Homo sapiens: one gene and its partners. The protein of the gene in region 1 purifies or fractionates together with the protein of each later gene. This does not show direct contact. Each region holds a gene or a part of one and is shown in the gene's direction. Other genes may lie near its edges.

The links. The genes of interacting proteins can lie anywhere in the genome.
Region 2: the proteins of THEM4 (region 1) and FAHD2A fractionate together in Homo sapiens (co-fractionation; one large-scale study listed by BioGRID). This does not show direct contact.
Region 3: the proteins of THEM4 (region 1) and HELB fractionate together in Homo sapiens (co-fractionation; one large-scale study listed by BioGRID). This does not show direct contact.

Annotation. Positions count from the first base shown.
Region 1 is NC_000001.11:151,902,076-151,907,231, reverse strand, and holds part of THEM4 (acyl-coenzyme A thioesterase THEM4), read left to right. Parts: intron 1-5,156. UniProt on the Homo sapiens protein: Has acyl-CoA thioesterase activity towards medium and long-chain (C14 to C18) fatty acyl-CoA substrates, and probably plays a role in mitochondrial fatty acid metabolism. Plays a role in the apoptotic process, possibly via its regulation of AKT1 activity.
Region 2 is NC_000002.12:95,409,208-95,412,707, forward strand, and holds part of FAHD2A (oxaloacetate tautomerase FAHD2A, mitochondrial), read left to right. Parts: intron 1-1,319; coding exon 1,320-1,379; intron 1,380-1,656; coding exon 1,657-1,819; intron 1,820-3,226; coding exon 3,227-3,335; exon of another isoform or gene 3,336-3,469; coding exon 3,470-3,500. UniProt on the Homo sapiens protein: Tautomerase that converts enol-oxaloacetate, a strong inhibitor of succinate dehydrogenase, to the physiological keto form of oxaloacetate. It is thereby required to maximize aerobic respiration efficiency by preventing succinate dehydrogenase inhibition.
Region 3 is NC_000012.12:66,301,027-66,305,292, forward strand, and holds the start of HELB (DNA helicase B), read left to right. Parts: upstream 1-1,466; 5' UTR 1,467-1,577; coding exon 1,578-1,764; intron 1,765-3,704; coding exon 3,705-4,124; intron 4,125-4,266.

The DNA of each region.
Region 1 (5,156 bases):
TCATGGTCTTGCTGGCTCAAGAGTGAAATTGCGGACCTTCGTGGTGAGTGTTATAGCTCTTAAGGCAGCACGTCTGGAGTTGTTCGTTCCTCCCGGTGGGTTTGTGGTCTCGTTGGCTTCAGGAGTGAAGCTGCAGACCTTCGCGGTGAGTGTTACAGCTCATAAAGGCAGTGTGGACCCAAAGAGTGAGCAGCAGCAAGATTTATTGCAAAGAGCGAAAGAACAAAGCTTCCACAGTGTGGAAGGGGACCCGAGCGGGTTGCCACTGCTGGCTTGGGCAGCCTGCTTTTATTCTCTTATCTGGCCCCACCCACATCCTGCTGATTGGTAGAGCCAAGTGGTCTGTTTTGACAGGGCCCTGATTGGTGCATTTACAATCCCTGAGCTAGACACAAAGGTTCTCCACGTCCACACCAGATTAGCTAGATACAGAGTGTCAACACAAAGGTTCTCCCAGTCCCCACCAGAGTAGCTAGATACAGAGTGTCGATTGGTGCATTCACAACCCCTGAGCTAGACATAGGGTGCTGATTGGTGTGTTTATAAACCTTGAGCTAGATACAGAGTGCCGATTGGTGTATTTACAGTCCTTTAGCTAGACATAAAGGTTCTCCAAGTTCCCACTAGACTCAGGAGCCCAGCTGGCTTCACCCAGTGGATCTCGCACTGGGGCTGCAGGTGGAACTGCCTGCCAGTCCCACGCTGTGTGCCCACACTCCTCAGCCCTTGGGTGCTCGATGGGACTGGGCGCCGTGGAGCAGGGGGCAGCACTCATCAGGGAGGCTCGGGCCGTGCAGGAGCCCACGGAGGGCGTGGGAGGCTCAGGCATGGCAGGCTGCAGGTCCCGAGCCCTGCCCCGCCAGAAGGCAGGTAAGGCCCAGTGAGAAATCGAGCGCAGCGCCAGTGGGCCGGCACTGCTGGGGGACCCAGTACACCCTCTGCAGCCACTGGCCCGGGTGCTAAGCCCCTCATTGCGTGGGGCCGGCAGGGCCGGCTGGCTGCTCCGAGTGCAGGGCCCGCCAAGCCCACACCCACCTGGAACTCCAGCTGGTCCACAAGCACCCCGCGCAGCCCTGGTTCCTGCTCGCGCCTCTCCCTCCACACCTTCCTGCAAGCTGAGGGAGCCGGCTCTGGCCTTGGCCAGCCCAGAAAGGCGCTCCCACAGTGCAGCAGTGGGCTGAAGGGCTCCTGAAGTGCCGCCAAAGTGGGAGCCCAGGCAGAGGAGGCGCCGAGAGGGAGCGAGGGCTGTGAGGACTTCCAGCACACTGTCACCTCTCACTATGACCCTTGCTTATGCAGCCCAGGTGGCTGTTATCTAGGCTTGCTCAAAAGAGCCTTGCAAGTGCTTATCTCATAATCTTCACTATGGTGCCCAGACGGCCGCAGCCTAGGCCTACTCAGGCATGTCTTATAACCTTCACTGTGCTGTTTAGATAAAACAGAATACTTGAAGTTACTAGTTACAGAAAACAGGAATCTATAAACTCATAAAACTTGCAGAGCAAGGTACAATCACACGGAAGGGGATGGGATTCAAGGGGGAACTTTACTTTTTCTTATCCTTTTGTTGAGGGAGTGCTGGAAGAGTCTCCAGAGCACATCCTTTGAGCCCTGGTTTCTTTGAGAATGTTATCAAGACTACACCCGGGTCAGGGCTTTGCCTGTTACTGCCTTTGGGATGAGTCAGCCTCATATAGAAAGCTTGTTTTTCACTTTTTAAATTTTATTTTGCTTTCTTCAATTTCCTGCCTCACTTCCTCAGGCCCCATATTTGAGCGCCAAACACAGTTAGGGTGAGAGTGAGACTCTGTCTCAAAAAAAAAAAGGACTTTCTTCTCAATTCATCTAAGTTCTTGTCACACAATCAGGAAAGATCAGTCTTGTGGACACAGAAGGGTGAGAATAATGGAATTTATTGGGCAAAAAAGGAAAAAGAGAAAAACCTCAGCAGAGGAAGAGGGAGCTGCTCCTACCCTGCCACACAGGAACTCAAGAGGCCAGGCTCCTTGCGTCTGCCAATGGCATGAACTTCTGTGGCTCCACCCTGTTCTCCCAGTCAAAGGCTGGTGGGAGGTTCTCTGGGGAGCTCTTTTTACTTCGCTGTCTTACCACTTTATAAATGTGTAACCAAAGCTCAAGCAAGACCTTTCCTCTGTTCAGGACAACAAAATATAATCGTTGTCCCTAACATTTCTACTTCATTTATAATCTATGCTTTGTCTTTACTTCAGGTATCTCTTAGTTTTCACCTCCTTGAACTGAAACCTTTATTATTTCTATTTCTACATTATTATAGTGTCCATCTGGAGTAACAAATTCAACCCCTGCCAAACTAAAATTAATAGTTACACTCCTGTTTTCTCTCTCCTGATCCACATGTGCACACTAAGAAAAACCTTTCTTTTCATTCTATTCACCCTAGTTTTCAAAGCCACAGCTCTAGATAATCATTCAAGACTCTTCTGCTTTCTCTTTCCCAGTCAGTAACTCCCCACATCCCTCAGTCCCAATGTCCTAAATATCTTAAAACTTTACTTTTCATTACTCAGTACCTAGTTCAGATTCTGACCATATCTGACCTGGGCCTTTGCAACAGTCTTTTAACTGGTTTCCCTACCATTGCATTTCACCATTTTAATTCATTCGTTACACCAGATGGAGCTTTCTAAAACCTATGTTCATATTACTCCCTTGCTTAAAACTCCTTAAGTCTCCTCATAAAGGAAAAACGTGCTGTATCATTCAAGTGCTTTCATGATTCTTTAAAGACGCCACTTCTTTAGTTAACTTAATCCTATGTAATAACATTGGTGAAATCACGTGTGAGTTTTCTACTTATGTCCTTTTATAATATATGAATATATTTTGTTATATTTTAAAATACATATATTTTTGTCCTTGTGCCACCTAAAATCATTTTTCATGCTGGTCTTTGGAAATACTGACCTAGAAGTTGAAATCTAAGCCCTATGGTGTGATCCCTCTAGTTCTTCACATCTTGCTGCTCTTCTCTTTCCACCTTACATATATGAAGGCTGAAACCCTAGCAGTTCCCCAATGTGATACGTTTATTTCAATCTCCTATGCCTTCGCTTGGAGCAGGCCCCCTCCCCATTCTCTCCTTAATGAACTTTTTATCCGTAGGAAATCACTCCATCATTTCAAAGTTTTCCCTGAAAGTCATCCGTTCTATGCCTGTATCTATTTCTCTTGTAGTATTTTTCACATCCAAGGCTGCTAACACTTGAAGGCAGGGTCTAAGTCTTCTCTCTGTTTTACCTGTCCCTCACATAGAACCAGGGCATGTAGTAGGACTCAAAAAAAGTTTCTTGGATTTAACGGAATCCCAGACTTTAAAAGTTAAAATCAGGAGAACCCACAGTTAAGGGAGTCATTCTAATTCCTAAAAGTATTTAATTAGCTCTGTATCCATAAAAGGACAGTGGAACTGATGGATCCTAGTGTTACTTGTTTAAGATGAGACCAGTGGCTAATGAGATGAGTTCAAATTCATAACTCCAAAGCTTATACATACTATTCTGCCTCTCAGTTGACATGTTTTGGTCAATACATAGTAATCTGTGATGAATTGTCTTGTTGGGTTACTTCTAGATTCATGTCCTTTAAAAGTTACATAATCAGGACTGGATTCTAAGGAAATAATCCAAAATAGAGGAAAAGCTATATTCATAATGTTCCAGTGGACATTTTCATTTAGAGCAGCAAAAGATTGGAAATAATTTAAATATCTACCTTAATGGCTAATTATATAGTATATCAGTTTAATGGACTATTTTTCTGCTATTGAAAATGGTGGTAACTGATATTACGGAGAAAGTGAACACTAAATAATTTCAAGTGGTAAATGTAGAAAGCAAAATTGTGGGATTTTTAAAATTTTGTTTGTTTTTGTTTTTACTGAGATTACAAGTATATTAGGAAAAATTATATTTAAAAAATTTGGAGGAAAGAAAATTTGCCATTAATTATATTAAGAGGGAGAGATGGGTGGGTTTAAAACTTTTTCTTTTCTTTCTTTCCCAAATTTTCTGAGCTGGGTTCTGGAAGGATGAACCAATTAAAAAATATATATATATGGAAAAAGATTACAAATCCTGGGCTAAGGGCAAAGTGGTTTCAACCCTGATCATGTATCCCCAACCCTCTGATACTCCAAAGTCAGGACTTCCTTTTTTTCAGCCAGGACGTTTTTATTCTGTAGAGTTTTTTGTTTGTTTGTTTTTGAGACAGAATCTCACTCTGTTGCCCGGACTGGAGTGCAGTGGTGCAGTCTTGGCTCACTGCAACCTCCACCTCCCTGGTTCAAGCAACTCTTGTTCCTCAGCCTCCCAAGTAGCTGAGACCACAGGCACACACCATCTCGCATGGCTAATTTTTGTATTTTTTGTAGAGATAGGGTTTCACCATGTTGGCCAGGCTGGTCTCAAACTCCTGACCTCAAGTGATCCACCCGCCTTGGCACCCCCAAAGTTCTGGGACTGCAGGTGTGCCACCACGCCTCAGCTTCCATAGAGTTTAGTTTTGATCTGTTTTGTTTAATTTTTATTTTTTAATTTTATTTTTCCATAAGTTATTCAGGTACAGGTGGTATTTGGTTACATGAGTAAGTTCTTTACACTAGTGATTTGTGAGATATTGGTGCACCCATCACCTGAGCATTATACACTGCACCATATTTATAGTCTTTTATCCCTTATCCCCCTCCCATTCTTCCCCCCAAGTCCCCAAAGTCCATTGTATCATTCTTATGCCTTTGCGTCCTCATAGCTTAGCTCTCCCATATAATTGAGAACATACAATGTTTGGTTTTCCATTCCTGAGTTACTTCACTTAGAATAATAGTCTCCAGTCTCATCCAGGTCACTGGGAATTTGGGTTGGTTCCACGATTTTGTGTTGGGCATTTGGGTTGGTTCCATGATTTGCAATTGGGGATGATGCTGCTATAAACATGCATGTGCAAGTATCTTTTTCGAATAATGACTTCTTTTCCACACTGTTTTCCATAGCAGCTATACTAGTTTACATTCCCACCAGCAGTGTAGAAATGTTCCTTGATCACTGCATCCACAGCAACATCTACTGTTTTTTGAGTTTTTTTATTATGGCAATTCTTGCAGGAGTAAGGTGGTATCG
Region 2 (3,500 bases), on another chromosome or scaffold:
GGTGGTAGTTTGAGATCACATAACTATCTTATTGCCCCATAGCATCTCATCCAGGGATCCTGTGGTCATCCTGACTGAATCTATTATTGCACTGGGGGTTAGAGAACAATGACCTTTTTTTTTTTTGAGACAGAGTCTCACTCTATTGTGCAGATGGAGTGCAGTGGCATAATTTCAGCACACCTCTGCCTCCTGGGTTCAAGTGATTCTCCTGCCTCAGCCTCCTGAGTAGCTGGGATTATAGGCGTGTACCACCACACCTGGCTAATTTTTGTATGTTTAGTAGAGACGGGGTTTCATCATGTTGGCTAGGCTGGTCTTGAACTCCTCACCTGAGGTGATCCACCTGACTTGGCCTCCCACAGTGCTGGGATTACAGACGTGACCCACCACTCCCAGACAAGATCAATGACTTCTCAATCATGCCTTCTGTTTTTATTGGCTGGCATTCTTCTATGAAGAAAAGCTGCCTCCCTCCTTTTTATTCCTGTCTTCAATATCACTGTGAATTCTGTTTTTACTCAATTGTTTGTAATTCATCATTTACATTCTTTAGGTGACCTCAGTTTGGCCAGTGAGGGGCCTTCAAGTTGGCTCCATTCCCGTCACTTTTAGTATATCCTAGCTTTCTGGCCAAGATGTTCTAGGCTTATCATGTACTGTCTGTCTTGGAACTGGAATTGGCCGTTTCCCCAAGGAACCCAGTGCTCCTTAGTGGGGAGTGGTATTAGAGACCAACATCTGGATGTCGGGTGTACTTACACCAACTCTGGTTATTATTAGAAAGAGCCACCAATTTTAAAGGCCAAATTATATCTATTTTATAGTGTATTTTATGGATTATGGGAGAGGCTGAGCATTTCTTCATGTTTTGTGGCCATGTCCGTTACCTTTTTGTGAATTGCTTACTCAAGTCCTTTGTGGGAGTTAATAGATTAAAACACTTAGAACAGTGCCTGACACACAGTAGGGTTACATATTGCTAGGGGATATTACTTCGTATTTATCCTTTGTTAAAAGTATCCAGAGTGACTTTTAAACTCAGTGCCCTGGACACGTGTTGCTCTTCTGCAGTCAGTGGTGTGGGGACCTGTGCCTGCATCCCATGATGCTGTCTGCCACTGCCCAAAATGTATGGGTCTACAAGTCACACCTCCCTTGTCATTCACTGGGCTCTGGTTCGTGGTGATGGCAAACATGGGATGGCAGCGAAGCCATACTGACAAAGGTTGAGGCCCTTCAGCATGGTGTGCAGCCTCTCAGCATGGACAGTGGGCCCTGAAGCCACTGCAGCTCACTGTTCCTCTCCCACCCTACAGGAGGTAGATTGGGAAGTGGAGCTGGCCGTGGTCATTGGAAAGAAAGGCAAGCACATCAAGGTGAGGTGGAAAGGGTGGGCTCCCAGTCCAGAGTGCAGCAGAGGCCCCAGCTCCTGCCTCTCCTAGTTCTGACCCCACTCACCAACACACGGTGCCAGCTGTCCCTGACACTAGGAAGCAGTCAGCCTCCTTGCTCCCTGACACTGCCTTTCCCTTCACCCACCTTTGGCTGGCTCTGGCTACTAACATGGGATAACAGCTTAGAGATCCCTTGCCATAGGTGTTGGTGTCACCCATGATCTAACCTCCTGTATGGCCAAATCCCCTGCCCCCATAGGCCACAGATGCTATGGCCCACGTGGCCGGCTTCACTGTGGCTCATGACGTGAGTGCTCGTGACTGGCAAATGAGACGTAATGGGAAACAATGGCTGCTGGGAAAAACCTTCGACACCTTCTGCCCTCTGGGCCCTGCCTTGGTGACCAAGGACAGTGTAGCAGGTAGGTCCCTGGTCCCTGCCCCCTTATACCTACCATTGCACAGATGAACAGCGCTTCAGGGAGGAGCATGGGTTCAGGTACATGTGGCACCTGCCCTCCCTGGCCGCCCTTTCACTGCTGACTCCATACAGGGCAAGTCTCTTATCCTCAGCCACGAGTTCTCCCATGGGCTTCCTTCCCAAGCCCCCTAGAGGGAACACAACTGCAGAGGATGTGAAACTGCATGCGTGAAGTAAATTACAAAGAACACTGAGCTGATGGGTGGATCGGGCTTCCTGCGGCTGCCACCTCTGAAACAATCTAAGTTGAGCATCATGGAGCATAGTTATCCCAAGGCCAAGGCATTTTCCACACTACAGGAGATGAAAGCCAGTGTGACTCACCCAGCCACTGTGGAAATAGAACAGCACTGACCACACACAGTCAGGATACAGCGCCAGGATGGGGGCAGTGCCCCAGAGGGCAGAGCGCAGCCTCTTACACAGCCACCCACAACTGTGGTGGAGGTGGGGGGTGTCCACATGGGCCAGCCATGCCAGGATACCAAAGACCCCAGTGCCTCAGCACCCCATGCAGAGTCCTCAGCAAAGTTAAATTGTGTTTCAGCTGCTCTACTTAAGGGGGGTAGAACACTAGGACCACCACCAACAGTAAAAAGTGCTGGTTAGCCAGGATGTTCTTACAGTAATCCATCCCCTGCCAGCATCCAGTACACGAGGCTTCTCTGTCCCGGCTAGAACCATTGCCTCACTGCTTTATAGATGCTGAGTCTTTTTTTTGCCATGGTCTTACTGTGTCACCCAGGCTGGAGTGCAGTGGCCCAATCCCAGCTCACTGAAGCCTCAACCTCCTGAGTTCAAGCAGTTCTCCCGCCTCAGCCTCCTGAGTAGCTGGGACTACAGGCACGCACCACCACGCCTGACTAATGTTTTTATTATTTTTTGTAGAGACAAGCACTCACTAAGTTACCCAGGCTGATTTTGAACTCCTGAGCTTAATCAGTTCTCGCCTGCCTTGGCCTCCCAAAGTGCTATGATTACAGACATGAGCCACCACGCTTGGCCCTGCTGAGTCAATCTACAGGTGTCATCCTATGCTGTAGACAGATGCCCTTATTTTTTTCAAGGCAAAAACCCTAGCCATTTTTCTCTTCCCCTTCAGAGTCTGAAACATCCTCTCAACCCATCCCTGTTACTACTGCTTGGTGCTCTTGGTGGGGATGCGGGGAGGCCTGAGAAGGCCAATGTCTATACAGAAAGTTCTAACATAGAGCACTGAGTCAATGTGGGCACTTTGAAGCCCTTTCACCTGCCAAGTCACGAAGCACCCCTACAGTTGTGTTTGTAAAATATTGGGGGGTTTGAGGGGGAAAAGGGATAACTCCAAGGTACCATCTTTGCATTTCAGATCCACACAACTTAAAGATCTGCTGCCGAGTGAATGGGGAAGTGGTCCAGAGCGGCAACACCAACCAGATGGTATTCAAGACAGAGGACCTGATAGCCTGGGTCTCCCAGTGAGTGACAGGGGCTGTCCTGCCAGCCCCGCTTCACCTGCCACACATGTGGAGGCTGACCTGAGCCCTCCATCTTTGGCTGTGGCCACCTCAGCCAGCCCCTGGTCTCACCGGGTCCTTCTGCTTTGATCCAGGTTTGTTACCTTTTACCCAGGGGATGTCATC
Region 3 (4,266 bases), on another chromosome or scaffold:
CAGTTTAGATATGCTGAGTCTTAAGTAGCCAAGGGGCATCCAGTAGTGACTGACAGTGTTTAGGCAGTTGTTTGTATGGTTTGGAGATCAGATTAGGCTGAGTCATTAGCATGTAGGTGAAGGATGATTGAGGAAAGGATTATAGAGCAAGAAGATGCTTGGGATGGAGCCTTGGGGAATAACAGTACTTACAGGCAAGCAGAGGGGTCCAAGACTGTAAATAGCCAGAAAGGAGAAAAATCTGAGAAGGCAAGCTGCAAAAGCCCCGGCAGCAGAATGCTACAAGAAGAAAATACTTATCAGTATCAAATACTGCTGAGAGGTCAGGTAAAACAAAGGCTGAAAAGTATCCACTGGTTTTTGAAACGAAGAGGACAGTAAGTGTGACATTTGTCAGAGGAGATTCAATGTTGTGGTGGAAACAGTAGCCATGTGAATGTCAAAGGAATTCAACCTCATATAGCCAATCCTTGGAAACACTGGTGTTTTGTCAGCTGCAACAGTATTTCTTTTAAAAGCAACAAAAGTGGGCATTTTTCAATTGGTACCCAAAGGAAAAGAAATCAATTTTTATATTTTCTCCTATACATTTTTCTTAAATATTTGGTGCTAGTTGTCGTTTATATATATTTAAATATAGCATCAGGTGCTTTTGGATTTAGTAAATAGTGTGTGTTTAGTTATTTCAGGAATAATCCCAAAATAAACAGTATCAATACAGTAATGTAGTAATATATTTATGGTATTTCTTAAATAGTACCAAGACTTTCAAGTACCATCCTCATCAAGTAAGAGAATCATAGCCCCATAATAGTTTTTAAAACCACGTTCCTTTCTCTTCTATTTCCCTTCTCCTATTCCTGTCTATACTCTGGGCTGCAAAGAGACACTTTTGCCCCACTGTCAGCAGGTAGCAGCCCAGCTTAAATAAGTTTGGGAGACCAGGGTGTACTCACAGAGGAAAGGATAAAAATAACTTTGAATGTTATCTAATCCAGTGGTGTCCAAACCTAGCTGAGCATCAAAATGGACAGCCCGGAATGTACATTAAAAAGACAGAATTCTAGGTCCCTGCCCTAGATCCGATTCCAGAAGGGCATCTGCTATACTTTCGTTTTGGGAAGGTTGGGGTGGGGGTTGCTTTTCCAGGTTCTTCAAGCTCAGCAGAAGTGGACTTTCTCCCCGTTCTCTCTCCGCAGGAGATGCCGTGCACTGGCGGTTCTGCAGGTGCCACGCCTGTCACTCCCCAGCGCTGATTTCGTCCCAGCACCTTCCTGATAATCACCGCCCAGCACCAGGCTCCAAAAGGAGCGGAAGCCCCGCCCATCTCCCAGCCCCTCGCTCTCCCTTCCCCGCCCCTAACCCGCCTTGCCCCGCCCCTTCCACATGCCCTCCCCTCGGCAATTCCTGGAAACTTGGGGCGGAGCTTCGCTGCCTTTCAGGTTTTATGTACGCTGGCGGCCGCCAGGCCGTTCCCGGAAGTTGATGGCCTTACAGTCGTAGAACTGATTGGCTGATCATGACCATGCAGTTAGCCAGGGTTTTCCCGAGTTGTTTGGGTTGAGTTCAGGAGAAGCATGGCCAGGTCGAGTCCGTACCTGCGCCAACTTCAGGGACCTCTGCTCCCACCCAGGGATCTGGTGGAGGAGGACGACGACTACCTAAACGACGACGTGGAGGAGGATGAAGAGTCCGTGTTCATCGACGCCGAGGAGCTCTGCAGTGGGGGCGTAAAGGCTGGCAGCCTCCCCGGGTGCCTCCGCGGTGAGGAAGGCGTCTGCCCGGGGGATGGGGTTGGAGGGTCCAAAGTAGCGCTTCCCATTCTGGCTTTGCCCTGAGCAAGGCACCCAGTCGTGCTAACAGATTTAGCTTATCAGTGGTCTAGCTGCTTCATCCTACCAAGGGTAAAATTATGACTATAATAATAGCAGTGACTTTAACTGGACACATACTATGTGGTTTTTTTTTTTTTTTCTTTTTTTGAGCAGCAGCAAGATTTATTGCAAAGAGCGAAAGAACAAAGCTTCTACAGTGTGGAAGGGGACCCGAGCGGGTTGCCCTTTTTTTTTTTTTTTTTTTTTAAAATTATTCTCATTTTAATGGTCGTCCTTTAATTTAATGTACCTTTAATGTAAGGTAGTTTTACGCTTAAGGAAACAGTGGATGTTGAGTCTCTATTTCCACCCAGAATCGGAACTTTTATTTTTCCTTCTGACCACTTATCCTCAAGTTCTATAGAATGAGAACTTGTAATTATTATCCTATATTGCCTGGAGTCAAATACGTGGTTCTTCCTCAGCTTCTTGGAAAAACAAAACAGTCCGGGCGCGGTGGCTCACGCACTTTGGGAGGCCGAGGCAGGTGGATCACTTGAGGTCAGGAGTTCGAGACCAGCCTGACCAACATGGTGAAACCTGTCTCTAGTAAAACAACAACAACAACAACAAAACTACAAAATTAGCCGGGCGTGATGTCGCACACCTGTAATCCTAGCTACTTGGGAGGCCGAGGCAGGAGAATTGCTTGAACCCAGGAGGTGGGGGTTGCAGTGAGCTGAGATCACACCATTGCACTCCGGCCTGGGCAACAAGAATGAAACTCCATCTCAAAAAACGAAAAGGAAAGAAAAGAAAAAGAAAAACGAAACACAAGGAACACCTCAGTGCACAGATGATTGTTAATTGGTGTTAGTAACCTTGTGGTTCGGGTAAACCTTGTATAAGTAGTTTCCTGTGCTATGAGGTAGTTTCCTGTGCTATAAGTTATACCTGTTATGTATACTTTGTGACTGAGACTTAAAATATTTTAATGTGCCGACCGGTGCTGTTCAGTAGAACTTTCCATGATCATGGCAGTGTTTTATATCTGCACTGTCTGGTATAATAGCCACTAGCCATATGTAGCTGTTTAGAACTTGAAATCCAGCTAGTGTAACTGAGGAGAGAAATTTTAAGTTTTATTACATTTTAATTTAAATAGCCACGTGGGTGGACAGCGCAGATTTAGGCAGAAAAGTTTCAAGTATTTGTGGAGGGCTTAGTCGTCATTCTAAAGTATCATCAACTGGCTAGCATGTTTGGTGCTGGGAAAACCTAGAGAAATAAAATAACAAGGTTGCAGTCTTAATGAAGCTTACCCTCTAGTGTATTAAACAAACATTCTTTAATCACAGAAGTAACTATAATGTTACTAAATGCTTAGAAGGAATGCTAAATAGTGCTTTGAGAGGTTTTATACATGAGATTCAGGGAAGACTTTTCTAAGTAAGTGATAGTTAAGCTGAGGTCTGTAGTAAATGTAGTAAACAGTAAAGGGGAGATCAGTTAAGGCAGATGGAATAACTTGAGTGAAGGGCCATGGCATTTTAAAGAAACTGCATGAAGGCCAGTATTGGCTGAAGTCAAGAGTAGCAGAGAGGGGACTGATTTTAGAAGAGGAACAGCAGACACCTGCTGTGTACTGTGCTTGCGTTTTGGAATACAAAGACAAACGAAACAGTGTCCTGTTTTAGTATTTACAGTGTAGTGGAGGGAGACAGAAAAAGAGGTAGGCAGAATGCAGTGTTACAGGCACCCTACCAGACATCTTTAGAGAGTGCTGTAGGGAGATTAAAGATAGTGGTAAGTTTGATGAAACTTTGAGGAAACGGTTTCTAAATAATCTCCAGAGTTAACTTTTGTGGGTTTTTGTTTGTTTTTTTTTAGTTTCTATTTGTGATGAAAACACACAAGAGACATGTAAAGTGTTTGGACGTTTTCCGATAACAGGTGCTTGGTGGAGAGTGAAGGTACAAGTAAAGCCTGTGGTGGGATCAAGGAGCTATCAATATCAAGTTCAAGGATTTCCGTCTTACTTTTTGCAGTCTGATATGTCACCACCAAATCAAAAACATATCTGTGCTCTCTTTCTTAAAGAGTGTGAGGTCTCCAGTGATGATGTTAATAAATTTTTAACATGGGTAAAGGAGGTATCAAACTACAAAAACCTAAACTTTGAAAATCTTAGGGAAACACTAAGAACTTTCCACAAGGAAACTGGAAGGAAAGATCAAAAGCAGCCTACACAGAATGGTCAGGAAGAGTTGTTCCTAGACAATGAGATGAGTCTTCCTCTGGAAAACACAAGTAAGTGTGATTTTTATCATCAACTTTCAGTGTAATTGACATACTTAATAACTACAGTGTTTAAAATGTTACCACTAGCATAGTATTCTTTTTAAAAATCCATTTGGTGAAAAATGTGTTTATGTTGCTTTTGGAGTATGCC